3 separate regions of the Homo sapiens genome follow, and regions 1 and 2 are each linked to region 3. The links come from fine-mapping of genetic effects on gene expression. Tissue or cell type: whole blood. Region 3 holds a variant in brackets; each other region holds the start of a gene. All regions are shown on one strand. Distances are from middle to middle.

The links. PIP is the estimated chance that this variant, and not a neighbour inherited with it, causes the effect.
Region 1: it holds the start of SKAP2, and the variant in region 3 is fine-mapped to the expression of SKAP2 in whole blood (INTERVAL, PIP above 0.99).
Region 2: HOXA-AS2 starts here. The variant in region 3 is fine-mapped to the expression of HOXA-AS2 in whole blood (TOPMed, PIP above 0.99).

The regions. Positions count from the first base shown.
Region 1 is chr7:26,859,718-26,867,825 of GRCh38, forward strand. SKAP2 (src kinase associated phosphoprotein 2) reads right to left here and starts at 4,873. Exons shown (of 13, transcript NM_003930.5): 1 at 4,646-4,873. The coding sequence starts at 4,712. RefSeq lists an enhancer at 5,111-5,440.
Region 2 is chr7:27,117,659-27,125,766 of GRCh38, forward strand. It overlaps HOXA-AS2 (HOXA cluster antisense RNA 2), which reads left to right and starts at 4,261. Exons shown (of 4, transcript NR_122069.1): 1 at 4,261-4,368; 2 at 4,809-5,008; 3 at 5,802-5,980. HOXA3 (homeobox A3) reads right to left here. Exons shown (of 6, transcript NM_153631.3): 4 at 4,901-4,984. RefSeq lists enhancers at 4,038-5,237, 4,816-5,613, 6,413-7,210.
Region 3 is chr7:26,915,871-26,923,978 of GRCh38, forward strand. It overlaps the pseudogene RPL7AP38. Among named protein-coding and RNA genes, the nearest start is that of SKAP2, 55 kb to the left of the region's middle. The variant C/A (reference allele first, on the strand shown) is at 4,037.

The DNA of each region.
Region 1 (8,108 bases), 56 kb before region 3:
AAATCTTTTTACTACATATTTTCAAAGAAGCCACAGTGAATAACACATTAGTCTGAGATTTACACTATATTCAGTTTTAGGCAGCATCTATTGTAATGTGTTCAGAATGTGATTGAAAAAGAAATGTAAATTCAGTGGAATGAAAAAGAGACTTAGCTTTAATTGAAAAAGACAAACTAAGTGAATCATGAGTATATAAAATCTAGCCTATGCCACTTTTATCACCCATATATGACACTTAATCTGAAATTTATGAGACAACTAAACTGTGTTTCAAATCACCAGCAGCTTTTCCTACTCTGTTGTGTCTACCTTCTTTCTAGTAATACTTTAATGCTGGTAACAGGAGCAATAAGCCCATTTGCAAATTTTTCATATAATGCTAATTTTTTAATATGTTTAGATTCTTCTTTTTGAAGAAAACCAATGATAATTTGGATTGGGTAGCTATAAAAACTGTACGTAGTATCAAGAGCCTTATATAGTAATGAGATGAAAATACTTTCAATGGACAGCCATGCCAAAAGATCTCCTCCCAAGAAAAAGCAGGACATTATATACTTAAAATAGGCAAATAATTTTCCTAACACCACATCTTAATTCATCTATATTATTTAGCCCATACAAAAAACTCTGTAAACCTCTAGTCCCTTAATTTACATATATTCCTATTTCTAGAAAAGAATATCTTGGAGGTACGATAGATTTCATTTTGAGATTAAATGTTCTCATATCAACTTTATGCTCTTTAGTGATTGCTGCCCAAATGGGGCAGGCTTGTTCTTGCTCCATAGGAAAACCCAGGTGCTAAGGAGGTAGGTGACTATTGGTGACTCAGTAGGTGGCACTCTTCCCTTTACATACTCAGCCAATGTCCCAGAAGGAAGTTATGGGACACTAGATACACCATAAATAATTCTCATAGGAAAAATAAAACCAAAATGTTGACCAAATTATAAATGGAACTTTGGAAAGGTGGAAATTAAACCGTAATATACTCAGCATTGAAAAAATTCTGCCTCTATTTCAAATAAATTGCACTCTTCACCTAGTGCCCCTACAGGAATCCCTTTAGGGGACTGATTACATACCCTAAATAATATTGTGTGAAAAAAATATTCACACATTATAATCAATGTGTGGGAAAAAATTTTCTAATGTTCTAAAAATTCCCAGTAGGGAAAATGTGGTATTTCTAATCAAGAGTGCCATGTGAACAAAACCTCAAGATCACTTATTTATTGTTTGTTTGGTTTGGTTTGATTTTTCAGAGCACTAACAATCACTATTTTCTTCTTTTAACAATGGTTTCATTTGCTAATTTAGTAAACAGAAAATAACATCTTCTTAGAGCTTTCCTTTTAAAATTTGTTGTCCTAAAACAAATGAATGAGGATGAATGAGAAGGTCTGATTGCAAGCCACTAACAAACCATTATTTAAAGGGTGATTAAACAAATGAAGGAGGCTGGAGGGAAGTGGTTCTAGTTCCTCTTACTTTCTTGCCTGTCTAGAGAAAAAAAAAAATCACATAAATCAAGATTATTCTTGCTGCTAGTCCTAGTCAAAATATTTGGATGTGAGAGAAGATTAAATGGACAAGATTTGGGATTGTCCTTTGATTTCAATTATCCAGGCTAAACCTGTTTTTCCATTGTTGTAGAAAAGAAAAAAATCAAAGGTTGCCTGTAATGCATATGGCAGCTCAAAATTTGCTTTCAACAACGAAATTCTGTAAGTCCTTTTCTGTTCATATAACCAAAAGAATAATCAACATTTTATAAAAAGCATAGGTCTTCAAGACTGACTCCACAGAAAATATAACTAAAAATCAAACTAGATAGCCACTTTTTCAATGGTATCTTTACACAACACATGTGAGTTAACAATAACAACCTCTTTTTTTTTTTTTTTTTTTTTTTACATTTCTATGGAATGGTTTTTATAGGGGAAGGAAAAAGGGAGAGGGAACAAATGTTGAAAGTATAGCATAGAACTGCCATAATCAGACAGAAAAATAAAGAGAAAGAAAAATAATAAATAAGAATACACTTGAGTACCTATCCCTTTTAAGCAGGTGAAATTTCAAACAGTACATATGACATATAATGATTTAGTTTAATAGGCATATGGAACACAAACAGATACATCTAAGCAACATTATTTTAACAGTCATTATCTTTTGATTATATATTCTTCTTTCTAAAAACAAAGGACTTTAAACCCCTGAAAAGTTTAGTTCCTTATCTTCTCTACCTTGGAATTCTAGCATAGTACCATGCATTCTAAGAGCACTCAACTGTTAACTACAACACCATTACCAATATCTCCTCAGTTTCAAAGAAATAGACTAAATAAGCCAGCAATATCTCTAATATTCAAACCAATATAAATACTTCTATAATGTTACTCTAAATCTAGTCATATACTATTACCCAATACACTTGAATTATGAAAAGAATCATGTACAATGCTAACAATATTTTTAGATGAAATACATGAAACAATTGCTGACAGCATCTATTCTTGAAGCGTTCTCTACCTCAAAAAAGATTTTAATTACAGTCAAACATAAAATGTTAGCAACTTTCCAAATAAGTTTTTTTAAAACCTGAAAAACACTGATTTGTTAAATTTCTTTAAACATAAATACGCCCCAACTCACTTCCATACTTCTTGAAAATATCCTCTGAAAATAAAGTGTAATCCAAATTTCCAATTCCAAAAGTTTTAATTGTAATATTTTTTAATACTTCATGTGTGTTTTAATATGTGATTTGCTTTAATAATATAAAATAGTGAAAATGTCAATAAAATGACTTAAAATAATTTCAGATGCTATGCTAGTATATTACCTGACTAAAGAGAGAAGGCAGAAATATATTGGAAGTTAGCATTGGCAGATAATTTAAATATGTAATTTTGAGTTTTTAGTTAAATTACACAAATAAGGGCCACAGGAAATACTTGTGATCTATGGGGATAAGAGAATAAAGGTTCTCATGACCTACATATCATATTATCTGTGATTTATGATTATGGATCCAAATAACAAACTGTACTATGGGAGGTACCAAGCTTTAAAACATGCACCCAGAGGTCTATATGTTATTTCTTAAATTCAAAAATACAGACATAGAATATCCTGAAAATGGTTTCATCTATTTTTGGAATAATGATAAACATTTTTCTGCGCTGGTTATTACAATAATATTCTGAACAAACAATTCCAGCATTGTAAAAACAAAAAATGTTAAGTGTAGTAAAACAAAATCAGTAGTCATGTGATGCAATAAAGCTGCCTGAAGTCAGTCTTTAGACTTCTTTAACTATTTCCCTTAGTGGTACCCGTTAATGACAACAAGCATTTCTTAGAGTGAAAGACTATCCCACCACAAATGCATTCAACATACTGTACCATAATCATACAAACATAAGTCTACATTCATACACTTAATATTACACTACCATATTAATAATGCCAAGCACCAAAATTGAATGACAGAATATTAGGAGATTTGGACTCACATTGCTATAGGAGTAACATATAAAATGTGTCATCAAATGTCACATTTTAGATGACATTGCTTTTTAAGAGCTAGAATAAGCAATCTGTAATCTAGTTATTCATAAGCAATACTGAGAGATAAATATTTTATAGACATCTAAAACTAAAAATCAAAATTCAGTTTCCAGAATTCTGACGTACACAAGACAAAATAAATGATGGTTGAAATTCCAGAACATTGAGATAGGTAAGATTTGTGCTACCTTAAAAACATATATTTTCTACCTTGTACAGAAATATAAATTATTGGTTCTTAGTGAACATACACACCTCCGTATCCAGTAAATTAATGAACTAGTAGTGGATTCATAATGCTACTGAAGAACCACGTTTTTAGCTCCTAAAATAAGTTCCTATAAATGGTAATGTAAAACTGAAAAAGGGAAGATAAGGGTACAAAGATGAAGTACTTTCATCGTGTCACACAGGAAGTAGAACTTTAACATATCCTTCCTTTTTTGCTTTAATATATTACTGAGGCTGGGGACAAGTGGCCATTTGAGAACCAGACCTTCTTCAAAAGTCTTAAACGTGAGTGAGCTGAATGTTTAAGAAAAACGGGAGTTTTAGAAATGACAAACTCTTTCACCCCATAACCCCTAACACCTGTGGCTCTGACAGCTCTTTGCATCTCTACATCCTCTACCTCCATTGGCCAGACCACCCAAGAACTACTTATTTGACTTCTGCTCCCTTCTGCTTGCTCACGCAGCATTCATTATCATTATCATTCTCTCTCCCTCTTCCACTCTTCCTCCCCCGCCCTTCTGTCACACACACACACACACACACACACACACCGTCTTCACAATGCACATAGAAACGTCCTGATCCCATTTGTGTAGATCACCAAAAAGGGCTTCGCCACCATCCCCGCACCAAATTTCAACACACACGTCCACTCCCTTTCTGAGACAAAACAACCCCTCTCCTCTCCTCCCTGTGCCGACCCCACTGGCTAGAAGACGTGGGAAGCGCGGGGAGGGAGGATAAGGGCTCTGAATGCTTCTGTCCCCACCGGCTCACCGTTCCCTCGCCCCCGCCCCGACAGCATTATCGCCGCCTTCCCGCTCTTTACCTGCCAACAGGTTCCTAATTTCCTCAGGGAGGGGGTAGGGAGAGGAGGTGCTGCTGGGGTTGGGCATGTTAGGGAGCGCAGGGCGTGCGGGGAAAGGACCTGCGCTGAAAAGGTGACCGACGGGGTGGGGCTGCGGCTGCGACCTAGACTCAGGCTAGCGGCCCGGATTAAGAACAGCGGGGCTACGAGTCGGGACACTGCCGGGCCGGGGCTCACAACAAGGAAGTCACTGAATCTCCAGCGAGCTGCAGCTGGACTGTCGGCCCAGCCCCGCCCAGAGGGCCGGGGCGGGGAGATGGGTGGGAAGGGACACGAAGGGCCTGAGGGGTCCAACTGCGCATGTGTATTCCTCGGTTTTCCCGGCCCCAGAAGAAAGAGCCTGTGGGCAAGCCACGCCCACCGCTACGCCGGGAAGCAGGAGGAGGAGCCACTGGTGGGAAGGGGGCGGACTGAGGCTGCGTCACCTGATGCTGCGTCACCTGATCCAGCGTCCGGAGCGCCTTACAGCCATTTTCGGTACTGGTGCCATCACAACTGCTGATCGTTTCTGCAGGATTCCAGAAAATAATGTATCCATGATACAGAGTGTATACAAGTTTTGCGATTACGCCTTCTGCGTAACAGTCAGTCCCACCGCAGTTTAACCCACAAGGAATTTTCTCTTGTCCTAAACTATTATGGCCTTCTTTGTCCGATTGAACGGAGGTAACGAAGTCTCGTCTTCCGCCAGTCGTCCGGGCGAAGCCAGTCTGGAGCCGCTCCGGAGCGCGCGTTGTGATTGGCTCTTACATTACTTTTCTACCTAATTCGTATCCTTGGGGTGACAGATTTTCCCCACTACAAGGAAGACTGGGAAGTTCTAAGCACCGTCCTTTGGCAGGAAAAAACAAACAAAACAAAACAAAAAAACAGAAGGCCGAATAGACATTGGCACCACTGTCCATCTACAAGCATCAAAAATAAAATTGCTGGTGGTGGTTAGTAGAATAAAATTATAAAATCTGCTCACTCCAACTTGACCATTTAGTCAACAAATACTTACTGTCTTCTATCTGTAAAGCTTCTTAAAAGTTTTCTCTTTTAAAAAAAATGGCTTCTTTAAAACCTTTAACAGGCATACATCTTTGTGCTTCCCAGATATTGCATTTTTTAACAAATTGAAGGTTTGTGGCAACCCTGCATCAAGCAAATCTGTGGGCGCCATTTTTCCAAAAGCATGTGCTCAGTTCATGTCTCTGTCACATTTTGGTGATTCTAACAATATTTCAAACTTTTTCATTATTATTGTATATGTTATGGTGATCTTTGAAGTTACTATTATAATTACTTTGGGACATCACAAACAGCACCCATATAAGACAGCGACTGTAATCCATAAATGTGTGTGTTCTGACTGCTCTACCAACCCTATACCTTCCTCCATATCTCTCCCTCTCTTGGGCCTCCCCATTCCTTGAGACACAACAATATTGACATTAAGCCAATTAATAACCCTACGATGGCCTCTGAGTGTTCCAGTAAAAGAATCATTTTACTTTAAATCAAAAGCTTACTTTAAATCAAAAGCTAGAAATGATTAAGCTTAGTGAGGAAGGCATATTGAAAGCCGAGACAGACCAAAAGCTAGGGCTCTTGCACCAAACAGCCAGGTAGTGAATGCAAGGGAAAAGTCCTTGAAGGAAAGTAAAAATGCTACTCCAGTGAACACACGAATGATAAGAAAGCGAAGGAGGCTTATTGCTGGTAAAGAAACGTTTTCATGTTCTGGATAGAAGATCAAACCAGACATAACATTCCCTTAAGCCAACGCCTAATCGAGTGCAAGGCCCTAACTCTCTTCAAGTCTACGAAGGCTGAGAGGTAAAGAAGCTGCAGAAGAAAAGTTGGAAGTTAGCAGAGGTTGGTTCATGATGTTTAAGGAAATAAGCCATCTTCAGAGCATAAAATTGTAAGGTGAAGCAGCAAATGCTGGTGAAGCAGCTGCAGCAAGTTATCAAAAAGATCTAGCTAAGGCCAGGTGCAGTGGCTCATGCCTGTAATCCTAGCACTTTGGGAGGATGAGGCGGGCGGATCATGAGGTCAGGAGATCGGGACCATCCTGGCTAACACAGTGAAACCCCGTCTCTACTAAAAAAAAGATACAAAAAAAAAAGAAAATTAGCCGGGTGTGGTGGCAGGCGCCTGTAGTCCCAGCTACTCGGGAGGCTGAGGCAGGAGAATGGCGTGAACCCAGGAGGCAGAGTTTGCAGTGAGCCAAGATTGCGCCACTATACTCCAGCCTGGGCGACAGAGCGAGACTCCATCTCAAAAAAAAAAAAAAAAAAAAAAAAATCTAGCTAAGATATCTGATGAAGGTGGCTATACTAAACAAAGAGTTTCAGTGTAGATGAAACAACACTTATTGGAAAACAATGCCATCTAGGACTTTCGTAGCTATAGAGTAGAAGTCAATGCCTGGCTTCAAAGCTTCAAAGGACAGGCTGATTCTCTTCTTAGGAACTATTTCAGCTGCTGACTTTAAGTTGAAGCCAATGCTCATTTACCATTCTGAAAATCCTAGGGCCCTTAAGGATTATGATAAATCTACTCTGCCTGTGCTCTATAAGTGGAACAACAAAGCCTGGATGACAGCACATCTGTTTACAGAATGATTTACTGAGTATTTTAAGCACACTGTTGAGATCTACTGCTCAGAAAAAAAGATGCCTTTCAAAATATTGCTGCTTATTGACAATGCACCTGGTCACCCAAGAGCTCTGATGGAGATATACAAGAAGATTAATGTTTTCATGCCTGCTAGTACCACATCCATTCTGCTGCCCATGGATCAAAGAGTAGTTTCAACTTTCAAGTCTTATTTAAAAAATACATTTCATGGCTGGCCATGGTGGGTTACACCTGTAATCCCAGCACTTTGGGAGGCTGAGGCAGGAGGATCACTTGAGGCCAAGAGTTCAAGACCAGCCTGGGCAACATAGTGGCACCCCATCTCTACAAAAAAAAAAAAAAAAAAAAAAAAAAAAAGAATAATTAGCCAGGTGTGGTGGTGTGTGCCTGTAGTCCTAGCTACTCATGAAGGTGAGATGTAAGGATCCCTTGGGCCCAGGAGTTCAAGATTACAGGGAGGTATGACTGTGCCAGTGAACTCCAGCTTGGGCCACAAATGAGACCCTATCTTAAAAAAAAAAAAAAATATATATATATATATATACACACATATATATACATATATATACATATATATATACACACATATATATATACATATATATACATATATATACCTATATATACATATATATATACATATATATATATATTATATGGCTATAGTTGCCATAGATAGTCATTTATCTAATATATCTGGGCAAAGTAAATTGAAAACCTTCTGAAAAAGGTTCACCATTCTAGATGCAATTAAGAATATTCATGATTCATGGGAAGAGGTCAAAATGTCCAACAT
Region 2 (8,108 bases), 200 kb after region 3:
CTCTTCCAGCTGCTCCGGCTGCTCAGGTCAGCCCCTAATCCTCCATCCCCTGCCTGAAAACACCGCCATCCTGGGAGAGATTCCCCTTCTCACCCACCCATCCCCCACCCCTCCCAGGCAATCTAGCCCTGCAAGCCGGTCCACCTCTGCCTGCACCTGGCTTCTGGACCCTCTTTCCGCCTGGGGATCAGCTCCTGAGACTCCAGCCCTGCCCTGCTGCAGTGGACAAAGCCACCCTTGCACTGGGGGCCACTGGGCCCACCTAGGAGCCCCCCTAGTGCCCCCTCCTTTACACCCCCAACACTTTCCAGGGAATTAAATTCAGAGTCTGAGGCGCTACTGGGAATCTTTCAAATGGTTTCGGTTCTAAAAGAGAAACAAAGGAAGAGAGAGGCTGAGGGTCCTGTCCATGAGCCAGGGTCTCCTCGCCTGACCTTTGTCTCTCACAGCCATAACTCACTCTAGATATGAACAATCGGCGGAAATACCTTAAAATAAATTCCATCCTCCTGGTATAGCCTCGACTTCCATCGGCTAGCTCGCCCAGAACCGCTCCATGAGTGCTGAAAACTGCAATCGGCTCAGAGAGCGCTCTCCGGAGAAGGGGAAGGAGAAGGAGGAGGTGGGTGCGTGGGGGTTGGGGGAAAGCTCTGGCTCTGTAGAGAATCTAGAAAACGTAATCACAGGCGAAGCCTGTCTGGGTCTCCGCTCCAAATGCCACAATAATGCGCTGTATTATGTGCTCACGTGGTCATACGTCAACTTAAATCCTTTTATTTGAAATAGGGAACCACTGAAGGAACTAGGTTTCCAAACAGAATATTTAGCTTTGGGGGAGGGTAGGTGGGGAACCTTGACCAGCAGTTTTGAGTTTAAGAGTTCTGTCTAAGCAATAGGATGCTTGGAGCCATCCTCCCATGAATGCCATATAAGACATACAAGCTTATCTCCACTTATATTTCTTTACACACCCTCCAAACACAAGGGTTACAGCAATGCTATTCACATTTTTAGAATCCATTTAACTTTCCTTACAGCCTCCCACCCACGGACAAGCTGGATCCTGCACACCCATGCACCCCAGTCTCCTCTGGCCCACAGGCCAGTATATCAAAAGGCAAGGGGCAGGCCCAGAAATAACTGGCCTGGACAGCGGACTTCCTCACAGCCTGCCATTGTATGGAGTTTGCTAACACCCACACCATACACTACAGACGCAAGAAACACCAAAAAGGCACATAATTACCTGACAAAAGGTTAAAGCATCTCCTCCAAGTCCAGTTGGTTTTGTTCAGTGGGAGCCCACTAGGAAAGATGTGCTTGGCTATAGAGTGGTGGGTCCGGGTTTTGCAAAATCTAGAGAAACCTAGTGCCCTGACTAAACTTGCACTTAAGCATTTCCTCAGTGCACAACTGAGTGATACATGGAATTATAAGTTTCTAAACATAAAAAATATCAGAGGAAATGATCTAATTGCTCTGCAAGAGACCCCCCCCCCCAAAAAAAATAAGAAAAAAAAGAAAAAGAATCAACCTTCACTGGAGTGCCTTAAGTTAACAAGGCAATCTGGGACCCTCTCCACAGGCAGGTCTGTCCACCCACTTTTCCAAGACAATTCTGTGTCCACCAGCAAATTCTCTCCCCACCCCCACACAAGTTCCTATAGAGATATCAACTCAAAGATGAGAAAGAGCCCCCTTCAGAACTCTCAAAATAATCTTGAGCAGAAAACCAGTAGAGAACCAACTGTGCTCAGGAAGAACCTAACTGAAACAAATAAGCTGCTCCCACCCTTGGTTCCACCCCTACTCCTGCCTTCTGCCTGATGACATTGCCCACTAATTTCAACATTGTACCGTTTCATGAGCTGTCTAAAAATCTTCTCTTTTCTGGTCTTAGTTTCTGAACTTCTGAGAGTGCTCTGAGGCTAGTGAGATCCTCAGGCCATATTCTTTTTTTCCTGGAGAATGGGTCTTCAGCTGGCTATGCCTGAGTGTGAGGACTCACTTATAGCAGCTGCAGGAGGCTGTGCATGATTCCTCCCCTTCACTCCTCCCCTGCAGAGGAACAGAAGGGGTCTGATGAAAATGTAAGGCCTTTCATAAGAGAACTTGTTCATGGGTTGTCCAAATCAGAAAGGCAATAAAAGAAGAGACCTAATCCCCTGGAAGCAAGTCCTGGCCTAAGCTGGTGACAATATTTCAGTAAGGTTCAATCTGTGGTGTAGCTGGAAGAGAACCTCCATGTGAACTTTTCCAGCTCCTATCTAAGTTACAAGCTGGAAAGTAAGAACTCCAAGTGAAAACCTGCCTCTCTCAGGTTTGGGGGATAGAGGACAGGAGTAGAAGCTGGTTTCCAAAAAGCGTTCTCCTGACCCCCAAGAACTCACTCCTCTCATTCTTACTGCTGCCTGCCTCATACCCCTCACCAATCATTCACACTGAGCTCTCCAGATACCCTAGAAAGGGACCTGGAGGTATTGCTGGCAAATTCCTCCCTACCCCCAAGTTTCTGAAGAGGCATCAACTCAAAGATGAGAAGGGGCCCCCTTCAAAGCTCTTGGAACAGTCGAGCAAATGAAAACTCTTAAAGCCATAAATTGTCCGGGTGCGGTGGCTCATGCCTGTAATCCCAGCACTTTGGGAGGCCGAGGTGGGTGGATCATGAGGTCAGCAGTTCGAGACCAGCCTGAACAACATGGTGCAACCCCGTCTGTACTAAAAATACAAAAATTAGCCAGGCATGGTGGTGCATGCCTGTAATCCCAGCTAGTCGGGAGGCTGAGGTGGGAAAATCACTTGAAACCAGAAGGCAGAGGTTGCAGTGAGCTGAGATCGTACCACTGCACTCCAGCCTGGGACAGAGCGCGACTCTGTCAAAAAAAAAAAAAAAAAAAAGCCATAAATCAATGAAATAAGTCATTGGTACTGCTTCAGAGAAATGCCTTAACGCCAGCAAAGCTCAGAGGCATCTCAGCTCCAGCCTGGGGCCTCCAAACGGCTGCTAACATCCAGTTAATGCTCCAACTGCTGTTTAACAATTAACATTAATGACTTGGGGTGGGATGGGTGATTTGGTGGGATGAGAAGGGAAAAATCTGAAAAGTCAAAAGACATTTAACTTTTGAGGTTAAAAAACAGCTTCTCTATGAGAGATCTTGGCCTGGGCAGCCTATCTGGGGAACCAGCAGCTGACAGTCCTCCTTTGCCACTCTGCAATCCAGTTTCCTGGAGCAAAGCTACGGGCCTTTTAAAAACCCAGCTGCCAGTCCCTCTTCACTCACTTCACCGGCCTCCAACTTGGCCTGCGCTGGGACTGATACTGTGGTCCTGGTCACCAGAGCCAAAATAGGGGGAAAGCTGGCTTGGAAAAAGCAGGCAACCAAGGGTACACACCGTTAGCCAATATTTGCAAGGCTGTTGGCAGATTAGATATATCTGTACTCAAACACTGCAATCTGATTTCTCTGTCAAAAGTACACTTAACATTTTTGTCCCATTACTTAAATCTAGTGGATTTTCTACTCAGCATCAGGTAAGGCTCTCTTAGCCCACTGTGTGCGTGTGTGTGTGTGTGTGTGTGTGTGTGTGTGTGTGTGTGTGTATGATAGATTCTTATTTAACATGAGATATTTCCTGTGGGTGCAAGTGCAGTAGAGAAATGGGCCAAGTTCTCTGGACACGTGTGGATGTGTATATTGTGTTATACACAAGGCCCCAAATTCCTGCAACTATTTATACATGCAATTGTTCTGTTGTTTGCTGAGATGGAAATCATATACACAGAGTTACAAATTCCTGAAATGTTCCATCTATATTTGATATAAACAGACATACAGTAGCTGAGAAAGTAACACAGCTTGACTATTGCTCTGTTTACCTTCTATTGGAAAAAATAATTGTATCCAGAACACCATATCAGCCTTATAGCACGACTGAATATCATGTTGCAATTAATTAACAACCTGATATCTATTTGGGAGCAAATTTAAGGGAAGACTGGAGGCCTAGGAAATAGAATACAAAATCTCAAAACTTTTTAAAAAGAAGTAATTCCTGAAAGAACAAAGCAAACTCATTCCTTCATACCATGCTTCTGAAAGCTATTCCAGCAGCCCCTCCCCCAAACAGGCATGTAATTTATGGATCTTTTACAAGGTAATAAACCACAGTAATTACCTCCCTGCATCCCAAACTAAGAGGACAAATTAAGTCAGAACTTGAAAATAATTTAAAAGAGTTTTCCCTTGTTTCAAATAGGAAAAGGAAACGCCAAGACATAGAAAACCACGCTTTTCCCGTAGGAAGAACCGATGATGAGCCCTGATGAAAGAAGGAAGAAGACCCGCTGTCTGCGAAGGCCTAAAGGTTAGAAATACAGCAATTTTTCTCATGCCGAAGGAAAGGCAAAATGGTCTAAGAAACTGCAAGAGTGTGATACAAGTTTTCCTCAACAGCGAGCTGGGACTGGCGACAATTTCTTAACTCACAGCCTCCGCAGTCGCCTTAGTCGACAAAGAGAGCAGCCCACGCAGCGGCCGCCGCGCCCGTGCCCGTGGCCTTTACTTGCTTTTGCCCTGAAGTTCAGTGTAGTGGTTTGTTTGGGGCTTGCAGGAAGAAACAAACACACTCCCTCTGACTCTCCACAACCCATCTTTGCCTTCTGCAACCGCTTCTCCTGCCCATCGCTGGTTTTGGGGTAGGCTCTTTGTCTGCCTGAGGCCCCGCACTCGCAGGGCAAGAAGCTTAAAGGAATCCAACTCCAAACTCCTCCGAAGTTAAATATTGACCAGAACCTCTTTCAACAGGCCGCGGTTGCCAGGAACCGTGGAGGGCCAACTCCTCCCAACCGCCCTGGTGCAAAGTCCCACGCGGCGAAGAGTTTTGGAGCAGCGCTTACCTAGAAAGATGTTTAAATTCTGAACCAGGAATTGTCTCCAACTCCAGGCGCTCAGGGAATCGCCTTTTCCGGTGTCCAGGCGCTCTGCAGACAAATAAACAGCAGAAGGTGAATGGCGGCTGCGAGGGAAGGGAGTTGGAGGCCGGGAGTGGGAAGCGAGGCTCATGCGGGCGCCAAGGTGGCCCTGGGGGTGACGCGAACATCAGGGAGTCACCAGGGCACTCGTCCGTGTGGCGCACTCATTGCTCGAAATGTTCCAGTCTACAAATGGTCCGAAGATGGTGATTTATTTTTGTAAAATAAATACATACTCCATCTCCACACCCATACTTTCTCCTTTTTCTTTCTTTTTTTTGGCGGGGGAGTGGGGAAGGAAAGGACATGAAGCAAACAGAGGAAGCTGAGAAGGTGGAAGTGGCTTTGCTGGTGGTGTGGGCTGCTTTCAGAGAGCTCTCTCCTCAGGCACCACAACTTGGAGAATGTGAATGCTTGCTTTATTTTCCTTTCCTAACAAAAGGAAGCCTTGTCTGGGAGCATTCAATCACGGACTCTCCTGAAACCTCACTAATATGTGTTCATTTCTGTAGGCGCGAAATCAGACCCGGGTTCATTCCACTGGCCAGAGGCAGTCTTGGGAGGATTTGTGTTCTGGTTTATTCAACTCTGGGTGCGTTCCTTTTAGGTCCTAGTGGGCTGGCGGGGCTACCGCAGCACCTAGTCCCTCAGAGCAGGCCAGCTAAGGCTGCTGGAAACTGAGAGGGACGCCGGCTGGTACAATACCTGCTCAGGGGCCCTGCTCCTGCCTGGCCTTGCGCAACGGCCACAAGCCGATCTGATGCCTTGATTCTGCTCAAATCTCGTCCCTCACAGTATTTGCAACCCTCTCTTGCCCTCTAACCAGCAAATGGTCACCGAGCCGGCAGTCAGCTTTCTGGGAGTGGGAGATGATGGGGAAAGAGGAAAGAATCGTCCGCTCGCCGGACCCTGGCTTGGAGAAGTTCTGCGCTCCGCTGGGACTCTGCGGGCCCTTTGCGTCTACAGACCTATCCCTGCCCCGACTACCCCTTCACTCAGACCCAGGTAACCTCTTACCCCAGCCTGCCCCAAACCAGCCCTCCGCTGTCTGTCTGCCTTCACGCAATTCTGTAGATAGCGCTAAGAGGGGATATCAAATAGCTGAGGAGTCCCCTGACCCCTGGCTTCGGAGCCCCCTAGCACGTGGAACAAGTGGCCGCACACCGGTAGCTGCGCTCTGCCACAGTTCGACCCGTAGCCCCCACAAACCAAAGGAAAAGGACCCAGGATCCACGCTGCGCGCTGCGCCCCCTTTCTCTTGTTCAAACTTGCTTTCTGTGTCCCCAAAGGGAGTGCCCCCTGGTCTTGGGGCTCCTGGCATGACCATGAGCAAGGTGGACTCAGCCATCCTGCACTTTGCCTCTCAATTTCATTCCAGAAAGATCCGCTATGCCGCCACCCACCACTCCCCTGCGTGACACTTAGGAGTATGTAATTATTATGGTTATTATTTTTGCTGTTTCCTTATCTCCAAGTCTAATATTCATGGCTGCTGTACCCCATAAATCGTTCAGACTAATGAGTCACAGAGAGATGCTGCCCAGGTCTCTCACTTTACAATGGCTGCCGCCGCCGCCGTGGCCTCTCTCTCCGCGTTTTTGGCGCTCGCTTGCTCCCTCGCTCGCCCGGCGCGGGTGATTTATGAACGCCGGGAAAATTGAACAAAGCCGCGCGCCCGTCCTGTGGTATCTCTGCAGCCTTCCCCAGCGTGAATCAGAACATTACCAACTGTCTGCGCATCCGTCCCACTTCATCACCAAAGCCAGGATGTGACCGCAGAAAACCCAAGCCCGAACTCACGTTTCCCCGGACGCGGCGCGCTCCCTGGACTCGCAGAAACCCTGCGGAAAAGGCCCCAAGATCTGGTGAGGGCCTGCCAGCTCCGTCCTCCCTGCCGAGGGCTCTCTCCTGCCTTCCTGAAGGAGTTAAAAGCCTTTGGAGATAAATCTGAGGGTGTGTGTTTTTAAAAATCAAATGGTAAGTTGGAATCTCACTTCTGAGAGATTCATTCCTAGTGAGGCCCTGACGACTCCGATCCATTCCTGACGATCTGCATTAATTATTTAATGAGTCACGTGACCTCAAAGATTACAATTTCAATATCTCCCTTGCACAGGCGCTACACCTTTATCAGCTGCAACCAGGGTCCTTTTTTTGGCTCTGCCGGCCTCCGGGGCACATTCATCCTTGCCCTGGTCTGAGGCAAGCCACCACCATGGAAATAGCAGGGCAAGCATGACAGAATTAGTCATCCTGGGATTATGACCGTTGTGGATAGTGGGGAGTCCACTGCTCTCCGAGATGCCCTGACATCTGTCCCCTCCTGAGCCCAGTGGCCAGTCCACCTGTCTGAGCTCTATGACTAGGGTGGCTTGGTTACAAAATCTCCCCAAGCAGCTTTGATGGCCCATGAGGCAAGAACCCATCCTTCTTCTCTGGCTGTACACACCTGTGACCGTCCAGGTCAAGTGTAAGCTTAGATGCATACCTCCATTCCTGGCAGAATATCTTCCTAAGAGGAAAGATGTCTGTGCTCTTATTGCTCTCTAGAGTGAGACTAAAGGTTGCATTCCACCCTCGTACTCATTAACTTAAGGAACGGTGGAGGGAGGATCATTCGGCTGCCTCAGTTTTCTCATCTGTAAATTAAGAAGATTGAACCAAAATGGCCTCCAGGTCTCCTTCACTTTGGACAGTCTTTCAATCTGGGAATCTCTTTCAGCCCCAGGAAACAATCCCAGAGAAAGTAGGGCTGGCTTGAAAGGGAAGGGGTTGCCCCGTGATTTTGGAGTCTTCAGAAGAGGTGCCAGAGTTCTGTAAGTTGCAGCCTAGAGGGTTTCAAGACAGCCACAGCAGCCTCCCTCATACCATCAAGGGAACAGAACACACGTCTCTTCCTCCTATTGTTTCCAGCCCATGTGTTTCTTTGGAACACGAAGCAGAATTATTCTTGGGACAGTGTATAATATAGGGAAGGGGCAACACAGCAGCAGTTGAGAAAGGTGAGCCTGTGTTCTGCTATACAAGACTGTGTTTAGGGATGCAGAGACCAGGGGAGTGCCAAGGGCAGCCTACTGCCTGCACAGAACCCACTCATTCAGAGGGGAAGCCCCAGGCTTTTTTGCTACATTGA
Region 3 (8,108 bases):
TATAAATAGGTTAGAGTGTGAATGAAGGTGTACCCGCCTCGATTTCTGCTCACTGTGGAGAAGCCTATGGTTAAAGCACTGATCTTATTTTGTCCGTTAAAGCCCCTCCAATCAAGTATATGACCTGGGGATGGGAACACTGATTCCATACCAACTGAGGAGTAGAAGAATTCAAAGCTAAAGAACGAAGAATATTATTGCAGATTAAGAATATCATTAGACAGAAATTGACTGTCTGATTATGTTGATTCATCACATGCTATGCTGGTGATCAGCAGCCCAAATGATATACATATACCTTTTTTTTTTCCAAAGAAATTGTCATGTAATCTTTTTATAAGCAGTATGGACTGATACCTTACCAAGCCAGAAGAACAAAATTTCTTTTTCAGATGCTTATGACAAAAGGACTTGGAATTATCTGTCTAAATAATGTCAAAATAGCCATTATTTCCTTCCACAAATGAAGGAACAGGATTGGGGATTAACTTTGTGGAATTCAATTAATTTTGCACTTGGCATAGTATATGGAAACAGTTTACAACATTTGGGCTTGGAGACTCTGGGTTGAATATTTAAACCATTGCTTGAGACATAATCAGTGGATAGAAAATTCTAAGAACAGCAGCCCTACTCCAGAACTTCTAGTGGGTGACATCTGGGGTGAATTAAGTTTCTGTTCTGTCCCAGCTTTAGCTACAGATGTGGAGGTGTAAATGTGCTTTCCAGGAACTGTAGATTATATGAACATGATGTAGACTACTTTTATTAGGAGTTCAAGTACCACATTTCCAGAAATATAAAGAATGACAGCAAGGAAAAAGGCCTTTAGAGCTTAAATTACAACCACATCTAATGAACTCAGAGGTGTTTTTCACTTACTAGGGTATTGCTTTTCAACTCCTGTAGCTTAAATGAATCTAGTGATCATAACAGTAAATATGGTTTCCAAAGGTATCCCAAGAGGTATCATTAGTCACATATTACATCCTTTTCTAATTTGTACACTTTCCATGTTTCAGGGTTTCACAGGACTGCTGAAACCTCCAGAATTTCATGTTTCCCTCAGCAGTCTACAATAACCCTTAATCTGAATGACATGTATTATTTCCTCAGCAAACATGTGATGTGGGAAGCTTAGTAAAAGATTTATTATAAGAAAAGGCTCGATGTTTTATTTCCTCCCCTAATTGAATTCATTATTGCTCTCTGTTTAGAAATGCTATGTTGATGTATTACACCTCAGAACAACTATGAACGTGCCATCTGCAGCAGGAAGGTTTATTAGACTACAAATCAGGATACAGATGTTGGAGGGAAAGCTACGTATGCTAAGTCATAATACATTAAAGCACATTTTAAATCTATATATCATGGTGGTCCAGCAGATTTTTATTTTTTTAAATTAGGTATTGGTACTTATGAAAATTCAGGAACTAGAAGCCCTCTCTTCATATGCATGATAGATAAAGTGATAAGCTGCTGAGGTGATAAGTATAACCCTGTAGATGGGGAAAAGGACTAAGTAACTTCAAAAGAAAAAGCTCACATTCTTATTCCGTAATACTAGTGAAAAGATCCACATTTAAAGTCGGCATTCTAAACCAAATGAGCAGATAAGTCTTTTGGGAGTGTAAATGATCACAGTTTTATTGATCTTTTTCACAAATTTAGATTTTCATCCATTTACTAGAAGAGCATTTATTGAGTACCTGTTACTTGCTAGGTGACTCTAGGATGTGCTCTAGGATTTTATTAAAACGAGACTCAGTTATATTATTTTGATGTAAGAGGAGTTGTTTAATTTTTCTTTCTTTCTCCAACTGTTCAAGTTCAGGCCCAATAATGGACAAATTGCCCGCAGAAAGTTTACAAGAATATATCAACTACTTCATTGGTTGAAAGAATTAGAGGAACCTTGGTCAGCACAGCTGAGAGGATTGCTTTCCTGAGAGATGACATGATTCTCTTCCATTAGGCTCACAAAAATATAACTCAATTGTATCAATCTTAAACAAATAAAATCTAGGATGCTCACATTTTCTAGAAGGATTAATGTTCTGTAGATCTATTGATCTTCTACATTCTTCTTAAAGTATCCAGGGTAATCATTAACAATACTTTGTTTTGATTTACTTGCCTGGTGTCTGAGGCTCTTCCAGCTCTCTACAATACATTTGCGCTTTATTCATGATGCTTATTCTGTAGATAAAGACAGCACATTACTGGCATTTGTAACTGGGAGGCTTAAAATTTTTAAACATAAAATTAGAGATAATCTAATGTTTAGATTAGGGTTAGATTTTTAAATAGGGTATAGAACTTCAAAAGAAGGTGGTTTTCTCTTTCCCTGGAAATATTCAGAAAACAGTCTACCTTTGGTCTTCCAGGAAGCACAGACAAGGGCAATGATTCAAGAAACCACTGTAAAAATGCAGATCTCACCCAGTAAAGGAGAGTATCTTACTTCCTATTAAGCATAGTTAGATGGGTGATTATTATTAATCATATATAGCATTTGCATAACAATGAAGTTTGGATGGCACTATCACACACTGTCTCATTTACCATATTAAGGAAGCATGTATTCATTCCTCAAATATTTTATAAATGCCTACTAGGTGCCAGACTGCATACTTTGTACTTGGAATGCAAAGGTGAGTAAGACAAATTCTCAGTGAGCTTACTTTCTAGTTGAGGAATACAATGTTATTAAATATAATGTGTTATAATACAGACATGATGAAGTACTGAGGCAACATGAGGTTACTAGTATTTTAGCCTCACTTTACAGAAAAAAAAACTGACCAAAAATATTGATATTAATATTATAGGGCAGTTTTAACAATTAAATGAGAGATTGTATTAAGTTACTTAGTACAATGACAGCCCATAGTAGGGAGTCCATAAATGTTATTTCAAAGAGGTAGCATAGAATAACAGGTTGGAGAATGGATTCTGTATCAAACCTTTTGGCTTGGATCCTGGCTACGTCTTAGTTTGTGTGGCCTCGGGAAAGTTATATGATATATCTAGATCTCAGTTTCCCCAGGGCTAAGATGGGAATAACAATCATAACCACTTCTCAGGGTTGTTGTTTTGAGAATCAAGTTGTCACACGTGTTCAAAAGAAGTTATTCATGGCAAAGATCAAAGCTGGGAGCAGGTCCAGAAACTATATCCCACCAAACTTATAGTTATCCTCTCATAAAATAGAGATACTGTGGCCCTGAAGAGTGAGATGTCCTTATTTTTACCATAGGGAGGAGAACTCCCTAGCAAATAGTTCAAGCTAGGAGAAGGCAGCAAAGAATATTTGGCATCTTGAAGGTTAGAGGGAAAACTGGCCTGAAGAGAGATGGCCAAAAAGAGAGGGAAAGCATGGTATGACAGCAATAGGGGTTAGGGGAATGTGACTTGGGCAGAGGTCGGACTGAACAAAGCAGAGGGAAATGGCTTCAAGAAGAGAGGAGGAATATGCCATCCACACATCTCCTAGCACTAAATACGGGATAATCTTTCCAATATGTCCAATCTGTATTTTGCTAAGTGGGGGGTATTTATTTTTATTGGATAATTCCTAAAATGTTATAAACAGAGCTTAACTAAGTAAGAGTATCCAAAATAGCCCAATAATTATCTTTCAAGGTGTCTGGTACCAACATGCTCTTTTCTCTCATTTGGATTCCCACAAAGAAACTGTTGGACATGAAAAAAAGAGGCAGATATTGGTTCACAATATGTCTCATGATACTGAGAGAATTTTCCTGATTGCAATTTTTCATTTCATTTTTTGAATGAATGATTTAAATGTTCTTTCTGTACATAATGGGACAGGAATTGTATAATTATTACCACAATCCAATTTTAGAACATTTTCAGAGAATGAAGGAGTTTTAACCTGTGATTTAAATGCTACCAGTTTATGGATCTCTGTTCTTGTACCAGAGACAATCTGAAGATTCTCTCCAGAAGTAAACATCCTAACCAGCAATCACCAACATTAAAACATGAGCCTGTTTTACTCTTTGAGTGG[C/A]TAGCTTCCTGTGAAAGAATATACATTGCCTCTCTTCTTTTGTTACCTTTCTGATAATACTGGCTATGCTGTAGGCCAATGTATTACATTAGAGAGCATTTCGAGGAAAAAGTCCCTTAAAGCTCCTTATATATATTACAATTTTCTGCTATACATCATTATTACTAAAATGATTCACAGCTAGTGTAGCATGTTTAGGCAAGCTCAGATACTTGGCAGTAGAACACAATTCTTTTAATAGCCTAGCTCCAATGGGTAACCCTTTGAAAAAGGCATTTATTGTTAGTTCTGTTAGCTATTGAACCAGTCTTTGCATACTTCGATGCATAAGCATACAAATGGAAATTTTTATTTTAAGTTCTGTGCTATACTTTGCATATGAAACAGAAGTTCTTTAACTATACTGTGGGAAATTCAAATGTATTTCCTCCTCTAGAAAGAAAATTAATCTGAGAACAAGAGTCTACTTTGAGATTGTATAGAAAAGGCAAATATACCCTCTGATATGCTGCTTAGTCCTGATCCCCACCCCACCTCATTCCAGTACCCTCATTAACAAGAAGCTGTCAAAATACTTGAACATCATGAAATAAGAATGGTATTTCAACAAAAGATCAAATGCTTAGAAATCCACACCCCAAACCAGGTTATTCTTTCATTCCTAAATCAATAAGCCGGCAAAAACAAGACCATATTTGAGGTGGCAAAACCTCCTATGCCCTTACATTCTGTGAAAACATAAAAGGAAAAAAGAATTCTTCCACATTCTTCACGCGATTTTCCATGAAAGCACTCATTAAATGATGTTTACATATAATGATGACAGAGTGTAGATGGGTGTACTGCTTGGCATTGGAAGGGCAGTGCCCTGGAGTCTTCCTCCAGTTCAATCTTGAAAAAAATAACAGTCCTTTTAGTTTTTTTTATTATTATACTTTAAGTTTTAGGGTACTTGTGCACAATGTGCAGGTTTGTTACATATATATACACATGTGCCATGTTGGTGTGCTGCACCCATTAACTGTCCTTTTAGTTTTTAGTGTACAAACTTGGCTCAAACCATACTATAAAGTACTTTTGTATGAAGACTGCCATAAAAAAAATCACTGCAGAATGCTCCACTGTCAGTTAGAGTCCGCACAAGCTAATGCAAGCAAGTTATGCACATTAAAATAAACAGTAGAGAATTGGGTGTGAAAACAGTATCAATCAGGCGTGTCCATCTGACCATTATAACTTTAAAATATCTGTAGAGCAAAGCCAGTTTTCGTCAAGGTCACTTACTGCTCAGAAAAAGCTTTTCAGCTTCAATAAAAACATCGAAGAAACAAAATAAGGTTTTAAAAAAATGATGTTCAAATAGGTGTGTTTCATTTTATGTCACCTGTAAGAAGCAGGGTTTCCATCTAACATGAGATTCCCATTCCTATTCCTCTGTAAAGGTACAGTTCTGATAAGTTCAAGGACATGTTTGAAAAATGAATAATCACCTATATTATTATTTCTTTGAGAGCTAATGTGGCTTTTATTGAAGGAAGTCGCCTGAAAGGCTTTTATTGGACAAGCTGTATGCTTGTCCCCCAGAGAGCTGCCCCACAAAAATTCCTCAGAATATGAAAACTCTCCTATTAGCATTAAATTTCAGGCATTATATCTTCAGAAAGGCCTTGTTAAATTTACATTTGCTGTCTATTGCAGTCTGTAAGGTTTAACGCCAAGCGCTGGATATTTAGATTAGCCCTCTCAATCTCCATTTTACTATCCTTCTCTTTGGAGGGATTAGATAGCTAAACACAGTTTTTCAGAGCACAGACTCTGAAAGTCAAGAATTGGCCTTGCCACTTAATAGTATGACTGGTCAGCTTATACTTACATGGTAGCCTTTCCAGAATACTCTGAGAAACACTATAAAGTGATAGGGATGAAGAAACTGAGCTTATTGAAAATGGAAGAACCAAATAGTAGACTGGTAGCTCCTAACCAGGGAAACAAAGCAGTCCACAGTTCCTGAGAGATTGTGGCCCCAGGCTAAGAAGGTTAACTTACAGTTTCTCAAGTATAAAATAAGGATGAAACTAATAGTATCCAAGTGCTCGGCACAGTGCCCAGCACACAGTAAGAGCCCAAAAGATGTTAGCTATTTTTTTCCTTAGGTCCTTAAGAGGCTCTGGCAGCTGAGAAAGAATGAAAAAGGGCAGGAGCGAAAAGAAAGAAGGCCAAGGGGAATAAGGTGGCTCCAGCCCCTGCTGTCGTGATGAAGCAGGAGGTTAAGAAAGTGGTGAATCCCCTGCTTGAGAAAAGGCCTAAGAATTTTGGCATTGGACAGGACATCCAGCCCAAAAGAGACCTCACTTGCTTCAAGAAATGGTCCCACTATATCAGGTTGCAGTGGCAGAGAGTCATCCTCTGTAAGTGGCTGAAAGTGCATCCTGAAATTAACCAGTTCACCCAGGCCCTGCACCACCAAACAGCTACTCAGTTGCTTCAGCTGGCCCACAACTACAGACCAAACAAGAGAAAGACAAAGCAAGAGAAGAAGCAGAGGCTGTTGGTCCGGGCTGAGAAGAAAGCTTGCAGCAAAGGGGACATCTCCACTAGGAGACCACTTGTCCTTCAAGCAGGAGTTAACACCGTCACCACCTTGGTGGAGAACAAGAAGGCTCAGCTGGTGGTGACTGTACATGATGTGGATCCCATCAAGCTTGTCTTCCTACCTGCCTTGTGTCATAAAATGGGGGTCTCTTCCCCTGCATTATCAAGAGGAAGGCAAGACTGGGACATATAGTCCACAGGAAGACCTGGATCACTGTCACCTTCACACAGGTGAACTTGGAAGACAAAGAAGCTTTGGCTAAGCTAGTGGAAGCTATCAGGACCAACTACAACAACAGATACGATGAGATCTGCCGTCACTGGGGAGGCAATGTCCTGGGTCCCAAATCTGTGGCTCGCATTGCCAAGCTTGAAAAGGCAAAGGCTAAAGAACTTGCCACCAAACTGGGTTAAATGCACACTGTTGAGATTTCTGTACATAAAAATAATTAAAATAATACAAATTTTAAGAAAAAGAAAAAGGGCAGGAGACCACCCATTGCAGTGGGCTATGCACTGGCTGAAGAATCCTTTTTTTTTTTTTTTTTTTTGAGACGGAGTCTTGCTCTGTCACCCAGGCTGGAGTGCAGTGGCATGATCCCAGCTCACTGCAAACTCTACCCCCCGGGTTCAAGTGATTCTTCTGCCTCAGCTGGGATTACAGTGATTCTTCTGCCTCAGCTGGGATTACAGGCACCTGCCACCATGCCCGGCTAATTTTTATATTTTTAGTAGTGACGGAGTTTCACCATGTTGGTCAGGCTGGTCTCGAACTCCTGGCCTCAAGTGATCTGCCCACTTCAGCCTCCCAAAAGAATCCTTCATCTTTAGTTTGCAGTGAGAAAGAAAGAACCACATAAGACTCTGCAATGGAGATACTGGAGTACAAGATTAGCCAGGGACAACTTTCTAGTTTAATGTGCAGAGTTCTGTGAATCTTTTTGTACTAAGTTTTCAGGAGTCTCCCCACCCTGAATTGGGTGTGCAGCCACTTTTTGATCCACTGGCACATAAGGCAGACACTGTGCCTAGTCTAAACAAGAAATGTTTCTCTCTTCTTCCCTGGTAACAAAACTCCAATTTGTATTCAGGTTTTTGAAAGAGATCCCTTGATTTCAGGAAGGGTAGACCCCTACCTCAACAACAAGGAATGAGCTGAAATTGGTCTAAATCAGTCATAGTAATTTTCTTTTCTTTCCTCAGGGATTGGCCAATAAGTGGGCACATGACTGAATCCTGGCCAAGGAGACAAAGGGAAAGTCCACTAGGGAAGGCTCTCTTGCTAATAAAAAGACAAGACTCCACAAGTAGAATGTCTCTACCAGTCTTCCTTCTTGTCCTGAACATGGACATGGTGACTGGAGCCATGGTAGCTATATTCTGGCCAGGAAAATGATGAAGAAGCTGGCCCTGAAATCATTGGATTACTGAACTGACTCAGGCAACTGCCTACCTCCAGACTTCTTGTTATGTTAGAAAT